Regions from separate parts of the Homo sapiens genome. Here region 2 is linked to region 1. Evidence: fine-mapped QTL for protein levels in blood plasma. Region 1 holds a variant in brackets. A gene starts in the other region. All regions are shown on their forward strands. Region 1 holds the start of LOC105375317 (a long non-coding RNA gene). Region 2 holds the start of CRISP2 (cysteine rich secretory protein 2).

Evidence for each region. PIP is the chance, under the fine-mapping model, that this variant and not a neighbour inherited with it causes the effect. The UK Biobank Pharma Proteomics Project read protein levels with antibody pairs (Olink). The fine-mapping took linkage between variants from a reference panel, not from the people measured, so its PIPs are less certain.
Region 2: CRISP2 starts here. The variant in region 1 is fine-mapped to the plasma level of the CRISP2 protein (UK Biobank, PIP above 0.99).

Annotation. Positions count from the first base shown.
Region 1 is chr7:64,039,548-64,044,935 of GRCh38, forward strand. It overlaps LOC105375317 (a long non-coding RNA gene), which reads right to left and starts at 64. Exons shown (of 3, transcript XR_927572.3): 1 at 1-64. The variant A/C (reference allele first, on the strand shown) is at 2,767.
Region 2 is chr6:49,710,894-49,716,281 of GRCh38, forward strand. CRISP2 (cysteine rich secretory protein 2) reads right to left here and starts at 2,650. Exons shown (of 10, transcript NM_003296.4): 1 at 2,582-2,650; 2 at 1,608-1,711; 3 at 392-428.

The DNA of each region.
Region 1 (5,388 bases):
GCAGAGCTTGCAGTGAGCTGAGATCGCACCACTGCACTTCAGCCTGGGCAACAGAGTGAGACTCCATCTCAAAAAAAAACAAAAAAAAAAAACAACAAAAAAAACAAAACTTGGGGGTTTTGACCAATAGTTTTCAGCTATTAGTTGTTACTTTTGTACCGCATTTATTGGTAAGACTGTCCATTTTCTTCAAACTTTTTTTACTCTTTTTTTTCAGATTCAGTAATTTCTATTGTTCTGTCTTTTTCTAATCTATGAATCAACCTAAAAGTACTATTTTAAAATTTCATTATCTTTCTATTTGGTTCTTTTTAATAATGTGCATTTCTTGCTGAGATTCCACATGTATTCATTCATTATGAGAACGTTTTTTCTTCACCCCATGACTATAGTTTTAATGGCTGCTCTCAAATACTTGACTGCTGATAACAACATCTTGGACGTTTTGGGGATAGCTTCTAATGCCTGTGTTTCGTCTTGTGCATGAATTACATTTTGTGTTTCTTCTCATGTCTCTTAAATTTTAAAATTGTATTTTGAAAACTATAAATAATACTTACAAAGACTCTGGATTCTGTTGTATTCCTTTGAAGATTGTTGTTATTTTTTGAAGAGGGAGTTAATTTGGCTGGATTCAAATTCAGATACCCTTCTCCCTTTCAGTGGGCACAGCTAAAATTCTCATTCAGTTCTTATCTGTACATATATCCTATGTATGATATATAGATGTGTGTTTCTATATAACAATATATGACATTGTATCCAGATTTTACCATTGTTATTTGTAAGAGTATTGTTCAACAAGCTACTCCACCATTACTGAAAGCCAAAACTTCAATTTTATATTCTTTTTGGATTTTACATAAATGGCATTATATAGTATGTATATTTTTACATCTACTTTCTTTTGTACATCACATTTGTAATATTCATCAGTGTTGCTGCAGATATTTAAACACTGAGATTACAGGCATAAGCCAACATGTTCAGCCTATAATATTTTAGGAGGCTAAGGTAGGAGGATCACTTGTGGCTGGGAATTTTAGACCAGTCTGGACAATATAGTGAGACCCTCTCTCTACAAAAAAATTAAAAATTAGCCAGGCATGGTGGCATGTGTCTGTCATTCCAGCTACTCAGATGGCTGATGCAGAAAAATCAATTAAGCCCATGAGTTCAAGGCTGCAGGAAGTGATGATTACAATCCTGCACTCCAGTCTGGGTAACAGAGCAAGACTGTCTCCTAAAAAATATATATATAAAAATTTAAAAGAATTTTATACATGATGTTAAATTACACATAAAACTAACTATTTTAACTATTTTAAAGGTTTCAGTTGACATGAATTAAGGACACTCATTAATTTGCTACCATAATTTCCATGTATAAAAAGCATTTTCCATTTTTTGAAACTGAAACTGTACCCATTAAACAACAGCTCCTTGTTATTCTCCCTCTAGCCCCTGGGAAACACTCTCCTACTTCGTGTTTCTATGGATTTACTCTTAAGTACCACACATGAGAGGAATCATATAGTAAAGAAATCATGAGGAAGAATGATAAAAACGTATCACATGCTTATTAATTTTGAATAAAAACACCAACAGAGATCAGTAGTACATGGTGATTATAAATAAACAGATAAATGAGAAAAAGGAATTGGCAGTGTGCATTGTATTTATGACAATGGGGCCTCAAGTACCATAGTAGTGAGTCCTCTGCCCCAGTCACAGGGCTGTTCAGTGGTGGAGCTGGAAGCCCAGTGTAGCTGTCTGACACCCGGATCCCATGCCTAGCCCAAATGTCACTGAGCTCTAAGGTACTTTCCTCCTGCTGGTCCAGGCACTCAGTGTTCCCTAAGATTTATCATGGCATGTTCTCCATGGCCAGGAGGGTGGTGTTGCTGGACTACTGGGATAAGAGATCCAGCTGGCAGGCAGGTTGTAGCTACAGTACAGAGGCAGATGTGAGGCTAGTAGAATCCATATCCCTGGCCTCCTTCCCAGTGCCTGCCCAGCTGGAGTGCTGGGTCCCAGGGGTCATCATGCAGCAGGGCCTGACACTGACCAGGGAGCCATGGCCACAGGCTCTTGGCAGCTGGCCCAAAACAAATATTCTCCATGCCCTCTGACAATCTGCTAGACCCTCACCTCTCAGTCTTACTGAGCCACTCCATTAACTGGAGGCAGACCCAAAATTGCCCCACAGGCTGAAGGTGATAATTGTCTGCAGACAGCTGAAGCAGCTGCATCTCCTGGAAGACTTTGATCTCCTGCAGCTAAAGGGAAGGACAAGTGGAAGATGTGGACAGGAGGTTCCAGGAGACAGGGATTATGAGATTTCAGGGGACAGGCCTTGAATGGACACCCAAAAGTGAGTACTTATCCCCATTACCACCCGATGGCACAGGGTGTTGCCTCCATCCTGGGCACATTTTCCAGTTATCTGGTGATGGGAGACCCTGCCAGAAAGGATTTTGTGGATGGGAGTGAGCCTGGGATGGGCAGGGCTGGAACCAGGATCCTGAGGCTTGGGAGAAGAGAATCCAGGATTACATCCTTAGATCTCAGCACTTGGCAAACCTCCTCTCATGAGAGCCTCACGGCTGCCTCTGTGAACTGAGGCTTCAGGCCTATGAATCTATGAATCTTCCCTATGAATGTTGAAGACTCCACATCAGCCGCCAGTCCCTGTTCTCTAAGTGGTGAAGCTGCAGAGCTGCCTGCTTGCAAAGCCCAGTGAGGTTTGGCCTGAGCTGGACTCAG[A/C]CTCTCCCTCAGGTGGTGCCAATGGAAGGAGAGTAAACTTCCTACTAACCGGACCTGGGTGAAAAATGTTGAAGGGAACTTGTGGGGAAGAGAGGTAACGGGCTGTTTTCTGGGGCTTTTCTCTTAAGGGCCTCTTCCTGTTCTCTAATGCCAGGCAGCCCCAACCTATTTTCAGAGTTGGATACAGACAGCCCCTCCTCCAGGAACTGGTTTTTGATTTCAGTCCCCTACTCACACCCTCCATTGTGATGGGTCTCTTTATCTGTGTATCAAACCTTTTCAATAAATCTAAGATGCAGAGGATGGAATCTAAATCTGAGATTGCAGAGGCTCCATCCTCTGCATCTTAGATTTACTGAAAAGGTTAAGCTGGGTGCAGTGGCTCATGCCTGTAATCCCAGCGCTTTGGGAGGCCAAGGCAGGTGGATCACTTGAGGTCAGGAGTTCAAGACCAGCCTGGCTAACATGGTGAAAACCCATCTCTACCAAAAATATAAAAAATTAGCCAGATGTGGTGGTATGCACCTGTAATCCCAGCTACTCATGAGGCTGAGGCAGGAGAATCGCTTGAACCCGTGAGGTGAAGGTTGCAGTGAGCAGAGATCATGCCACTGTACTCCAGTCTGGGCAACAGAGCAAGACTCTATATCAAAATAAATAGATAAATAAGTTAGATACACAGAGTATTCTCCCCAGGGGCATCTGTGAGTTTTACCTCTCCACTCTCCCCCAGTGTTGCCCCAGCTACTCACCTTCCTTTTTTTTTTTTTTTTTTTTTGGTGTTATTCACATTTCCCTGGAAGTCAGACAGCCAGTGTTCATTAGAAAGGCCCCTTAGACCCTTAGACTAGGTCCCCTCCCCACTCCCTTCATACTGCATTACTGCCAGGGCCACCAGGGTCAGGGCATGTGCACAAAGCAGGAGTTGGGTCTGCAGCAGGTTCTGGGGTTCAAAGAACAGAACAATGGGAGCTGAGGCTCAGGGACCTCCCGCCCCAACTCTCTCTGATGACAGAAAAACTGGAGGCTCCCATTAAAAAAGTGCTCAGGCTTATATGAGCTGCCTGCCCTTAGAGAGGTCTAAGTTTACTCTCCTTCCATTGGAACCACCTGAGGGAGAGTCTGAGTCCAGCTCAGGCCAAACCTCACTGAGCTTTGCAAGCAGGCAGCTCTGCAGCTTCACCACTCTGGGAACAGGGACTGACGGCTGATGTGGAATCTTCAACATTCATAGGGAAGAGGGGCCTGATGCCTCAGCTCACAGAGGCAGCCGTGAGGCTCTCATGAGAGGAGGTTTGCCAAGTGCTGAGATCTAAGGGTGTAGTCCTGGATTCTCTTTTCCCAAGCCTCAGGATCCTGGTTCCAGCCCTGCCCATCCCAGGCTCACTCCCATCCATATAATCCTTTCTGGCAGGGTCTCCCATCACCAGATAACTGGAAAATGTGCCCAGGATGGAGGCAACACCCTGTGCCATCGGGTGGTGATGGGGATGAGTATCCAATTTTGGGTGTCCATTCAAGGCCTGTCCCCTGAAGTCTCATAATCCCCTGTCTCCTGGACCCTCCTATCTACATCTTCCACTTGAAAAAGCCAAAGACACTCAGCTGCCTCTCCCCAACTCTCTCCCCTCCTCCTAGCTGGCCTCCAAAAACATGAACCCCCATGTTCCCATGTTAACTCTGTGGTGAGATTTTTACAAGTCACAATGTTATGTGGTCCCTGCCCCCACTATTTCCCAAATCCAGCTCTTCCAGGCTTTTACTCAGATTTGTCTTATAGAGGCATTTCAGGGACTGTTGCCACAGGAGGGAAGGGCTACGGGAGAAAGGCCCCTTGCTCTTTTGATGTGGAGGCCTCCGGCTGTGAGGGAGGAGCTCTTCCCTCTGACTCCCTGGAGCTCCTCCCCATCACAGGGACACTGCCTTTTTGCTGCTTTAGCCTCATCTGGCCTCTCTGTGGTTTCGTCTCCAGGGTGGCCAACGTGGATGTCTTCATCTGCCAGAGTCAAAGAAAAGGTCAGTGATACTATGCTCCCTTCACCCAGTTATGCCCAGTTACACTGACCTGGTATCCTGGATAACTGGTGTGAGTAAGCTGGTCCAATGCTCCTGTCATCTCCAGTAAGTTCTGATTCTAGATTGACTCCCTGCTCCAACACTCCCTGTATGTGGAACCTTGGGCATGCAGCCAGGCCTCCCTGAGACTGTTTTCTCAACTTGAAAGTGTGATGGGAACCACCTACCTCACTGGGCCTTGTGAGGACTCAGTTATATGTAGCTGTCACCATTGTTCTCATCATCTCAGGAAGAGCCAGGCACAAGCACTCTCAAAGTTCTTTTCTCCTTTGAAGCTCATCATTAGCCCCTCTCAGTCTCATCATCCCTACATTTTTTGGATAAGAAAACAGAGGCCCAAAGAGGGCAGTGACTTGCCCAGGGCCCTAGAGAAGAGGCCGGCTCCTTCCCACACCTGGAGGCACTGACCCAGCTGACTTTACCCCACAGCCCAGCACTATCCCTGACTAGGGTCCCATCTTCGTTCTCCATGCTTGTTTAGGTCCTCAGGCAGGCTCAGCTTTGGTGGGAAAGAAACAGGGTGTTTTGGGAGGTCTGGGTGAGTGG
Region 2 (5,388 bases), not on the chromosome of region 1:
AGGTGAGAGCACATAACTTGAGCCCAGGAGTTCAAGATCAGCCTGGAAAGCACAGTGAGACCTCATCTCTACTAAAAACAAACAAACAAAAACAAAACATAATTAGCTGGGCATGGTGGCAAGTGCCTGTAGTCCCAGCTACTCAGGAGGCTGAGGTGGGATGATCATTTGAGCCTAGGAGTTTGAGGCAGCAGTGAACTATGATCACAGCACTGCATTCCAGCCTGGGTGACAGAAAGAGACCCTGTCTCTAAAACAAACAAACAAACAGACAAACAAAAAACAAAAAAATAAAATCATGGGCAAACTCATTAATCATTTTACCCTTGACAACATAAAAATGATTGGCATGATAAAATATTCACATTAAAATCAATGATTTAACACTTACTGTTGGTTTTCTGAGCAGGATGAAATATCTACTTTATCTTTAGAAAGAAAGAAGGTGGAAGGTTTAGAGCAGCATATATATTACACATATTCCTGTTTTGTCAAACTCTGGTTTTGTTAAATAAATCTAAGTCAACAAAGTTCTGAAGTAGTATTTTTCATACCAGTAACCTTAAACTTCATTGTCAGTTGTCTGATAATGCTTTTGACATTATTTGCTTCCCACATAGTTTTTAACATGAGTAAGTAAATCATGCCCTCCCTTTCTAATCAGTTCTCCCTTCTCCTTAGGCACACGATAATCTGCATGTGGCCTTTTTGGACTAGTATTTCTATATTGACAACCCAAGACAGGTTAACTACTGTGAAGGTTACCAGGATTCTGCCTTATAGCTGAACTCTCATAGTTCAGCTGTCTATGATTTTTACTTTCTAATTATCAACTACCTGTAGCTTATTGGTTACGGGTGCATTCTTTGGAAACCATCAGGTCTGGGAAATCTATGCCAAGCTTCAGTGTTTTTCTTATGTAAAATGTAGATTTTTATATCACAGGTTTTTGCTTTGAAGACTGGAAGGGACAATGTATGTAACACCTCTAATACAATAAACACATTATGCACATAATACAAATAAACGGAAATTATTCATGTTTTTATTATCTTTTGCAATGTCTGCTAGTTTGTTGAGCTCATAAGAGCTTTCTATAAACATATGCTGTTTGATTGAATTGCTAATTACTAAGTGTTTAAGAGACATGTGTTTCCTTCCAGGTGTTATAGGAAAATACAATCAGTATAATCTAATTCGAGATTCACATGTTCAAGGCCTGGTTCTATTAGACACCTTCTGGCTGACTTTAGGAAAATGCTCTAACATCTGGGCTGTTGTATCCTCATCAGCTCATTGAAAGCCATACACAGGAGCCTGAAGAGTTTTGTATAGCTCAATCACCCAGTGTATGCATCTGATGAGCCAGAATTCTATAATAGGCCATGATGCCATACTCTCCTCTTTGCTGCTCTTCTCTCTCATAACCTCAACCATCTAACCTATACTCATCTTCATTGAGTCAATGAAAGCAATGTCACTGTTGGTGAGAGTATATTCAAGGAAAAATATTTTTTTCTATTCCATATAATTACATTTTATTCCTTTAAACCCATATTGATATATAGTTGAAAAGTTGGCTACCATTTTTTTTCTTTGCTACTTACTAATGGTGAAGTACTGTGCTCTTTCTTGCAGGTGTTTTAAGATCAGGATGACATGGTTTTCCTAGAGTGTCTTTAGGAGGGCCATGGTGTATAATTTTATAACCCTAGAACAAGGAAACAAAATATTTAAAATAAAGATGTGAAGAATACCCTTATAGATGGTATCTATAATCTTTGTCACAAACTTAAATTTTGACTCAATTGTTTAGTATTGTTTCTAATAATTTACTGTATTTATTTGATTTCAGCGTTAAGACCATATTGTCCTTCTGAGGTCAGATTGTATTTCAACGCCCTGATATTTCCTTCAAACACTAACAAAAAAGTGGACTTCTTGAAGTTCAGTAACTACTAGTTGGCTAACTTGCTTGGAAAATTGCAACCTTTTTTCAAGACTCCCAACCCCTTATCTAGGACTTCAACCCATTCTTTAAAAGATCATTTCCATAAGCAGTGTCCCACATGGTAAGTATTAACTACGTGGATTTGGGGGTAACAGCTTTGTCTCTTCATTTTTTTTTTAAATTCTGGAAGCCAATAGATGATATAAAGTCCAGCAGAGTCAATGACCCCAACTCTAATTGTTATTACAGTTTCTAATAACTGTACATTCAAAACATCAATTAGAAACTAAGAGTCTTAATTTGACTTCGTAAAAAGCAGATTGAGAAATGACTTCAGGCTTCTACTATGATTCAATGGGTCTTATGTACTTAGAATGATTTCTCTTTTAAGGTAGGTAAAGAGTTTCAATAGACTAAACATAGAGAAGCATGTTGAAAGTTATGGTAGGTCGGCGCTAAGCAACAAAATTGAACTCTCAGTCTGCCCGGCATTAGCTATGTGCCCTCCAGATGCCGGAAGAGGAGCGAAGGAGGATCAGAAACCCCCTCACCTCAACGATGGTTCTCTCCCCTGTGCTTCACCCCACCTCCCCGTCCCTAGCCATTTCTAGTCTCCAATCCGGGTCTTACATTTACCCTGGCTCCAGAGCACAGACCTTCCTGCAGTTGGGCCGGCGCGTTGCGGCGTTGAGGAGCTGCGGCGCGCCCCTCTCACCGCGATTGTTCACTTGCCAGGCGCCACGTGTGGGCGACGTCACTGGGCTTTATGCTTTCATCGCCGCTATCTGCCTACGTGAGCTGCTCTCCTCCCATCGCCCCCGCCTCCCCTACTACGGAGAAAATCTTGCACGTTTTCCCTTGTGAAAAGCAGAGTTCTCTTTTTCTCATTACCACCAGTTGATGAGGAAAGAAAATGTCTGTTCGCATACCTGCGCCGTACTAGGAGGAGGAGGGAGGTCATATAAGGATTCGGGTTGCCCAGGGGGTGGCTTGAAAAAGGAGGCGTTCGCATTCAAACAAGAATGCCTGAATTAATGTAGTTCAATTTAAAGAGCTAATTAGGAGTCCACAGGTGCTTAAGTTTGCAGTGCGCTGCCAGTGTCATGCCAACGACGCACTCCAGTTACACAGGTTGTCAGTTTCAGGCTCCCTCATAAACACTTCATGTTCTTGTCCCTCTTCCCCGTTGGCAACAGTTTTATGGTGAGAAAATTCACGAAGAGTAACAGGAACAACTCTTATGAAAATACGCAGAACTCCTGACCCAAGGCTACTGGCTGCAAGTTTAGCATACGTATCAAGCATGGGTTAAAGACATGTTTTCTCTCTCAGAAGGCGGATGAGTAATAGGTGCATTTTCTTCTATTCACAGTTGTTTTCAAAGCGAAAAGGAGTGAATTCGCTTATGACCTAGAGGAAGAGAGATGGGTCAAAAGATGTCAAGCCAAGGATTAATATCCGTCATACCTTGGTTCTCTGTAAGCCATGCAATAAGAGGCTTGAGATTTCACCAACTCTGGAGACTCACTTGGGCACAACTGAAACTATAACAAACTTGGTGCTCAGTGCCATTTTCCTTTGGCAGTGTTACAAGGTAATTTCAAGGGATCAGCACACAGACATTGTTTTAGTTTTCTTTTGCTGCTTATTTCAGTTCATGCAGCACTGACTAAAAATTTTGGAATTTAGACTGCTTAACGCTTATATCTACATCCAATATCAAAATTCATTACTGACAGTTTGCCTTTCTAAATATTTATGAAATCTAGTCCTCAATCTGTCCCTCACTTCTATATTCATGTTTTCACCATATCTTGCTTAAGTTATTAATTGGACATTTCAAATACCTATATGCACAAAATCTCTGCCTACCTATTTGTTCTTTCTTTCTAGTGCCGAACAATTCATTCTCAGCACTATAATAGTCTATCATTTACTGTGAATATCTTATTTTTCATTTTTGGAGAAGAGTCATTCCTGTAATTATTACTTGTTCCCATATTCACATTGATGATATCAGAATGAGAGCAACTTGAGCGCTGTGGTGCCAGATATTGTTGGTGAACCTGAATTTCAGAAATTGGCTATGTCTGTCTTGATTATTGCTGTATCTCCAAAACTAACACAATACCAAATATAGGTGGTAGTTTGTAAATATTTGTTAAGTGAGTAAATATTGACCCGACATAGATTCTTAGAAAATACAGAAAAAAGGACATAAAATCTCTTTCTTCTAAGACTCATAGTACTATGAGAGAAAGGAGTATGTATATGAATAAGTAAAGAATACTATTAGGTAGTGTAGTTTAATGCTAAGTAGGGCGACCAAAAATATATACAGTAATTGAGAGTTCTGTGAGTTGATATGATCTGGGTAAAACCTAGGAAAGTTTTGACATTTGAACTGTTATTGAATAATGCGTATGGCTTGATTTGAAGGGAGAAAGAGTTGAAGAACAAAAGCAGATAAATCATTATATCACAAGGCATATTCAAGACAGAAAGACTGTTGAAAAGGTTGGGGAAACTTTGTATAGAAGTCTAAGGAGATTTGCTTCTCTGTATAACATGGGAAAGTAATTTCATTGACATTTTGGAGGGTTGGGAAATTCTTTGATCAAAAGAATGTTTCATAAAAGCCACCTGATCTCACTGCATGGGGTGATTTACAGAGCTGAGAAATTGATGGCAGCAAAAATAAGTGTGGTAACAATTCCCCAGATTAATTTTGTAGTAGTAGAAATAGGACAAAAGGGTGGAATATGAAGAGATTTTTAAAAAGTGTTGATAGATTTTGTATGAAGGGCAAATCCAGAATAGAAGACTTGTAAGTTTGGTGCCTGAATGTGTTGGAGAGCACATGGAAAGTAGATCTCCATTACTGAGAGGAATAGTACAGGTACTTCTAAGAACATTGCCAGGAGTCCTTTGCTTTTCTAGAAGGGCATCATTTGTTAGTTCCTTTTTCTATGGTTTGGAGTAAAAGAAGCAATGATTAGAAATGCATTCCTCATAGTAGGCTCTATAGCAGATTCTACTGTATAGGATATAGTTAAATACCAGACTTTAAATTCTCTTGTGAAAATTATGATAGAATTGGCTGAATAGAGAAGTATCTGTGCAGCTGCTGGCACTTGTGGCCTATGGAGAAATACATCAGATGAAGACTATAGAGATTTAGCTGTAGAGGATAAATGAAGAGATTGCTTAGTTAAGTAAGTAGACTCTTTAGCTCATTTTTTGATCTATTTAATTTTAGGTGGTTTGGTTTATGGGTAACCTGGGTAAAGAGCATACTCCAAACTCTTGGTATTATCCTCCCGATAGTCATAATAATAGTTTCCCTGGTACACTGTATTCTCTCAAAGGTTTTAAGTGCTTCCACGCAGCCATTGCTAGAATGTCAAATGGTCTCTCTTCAATTAGAATGACAAGAG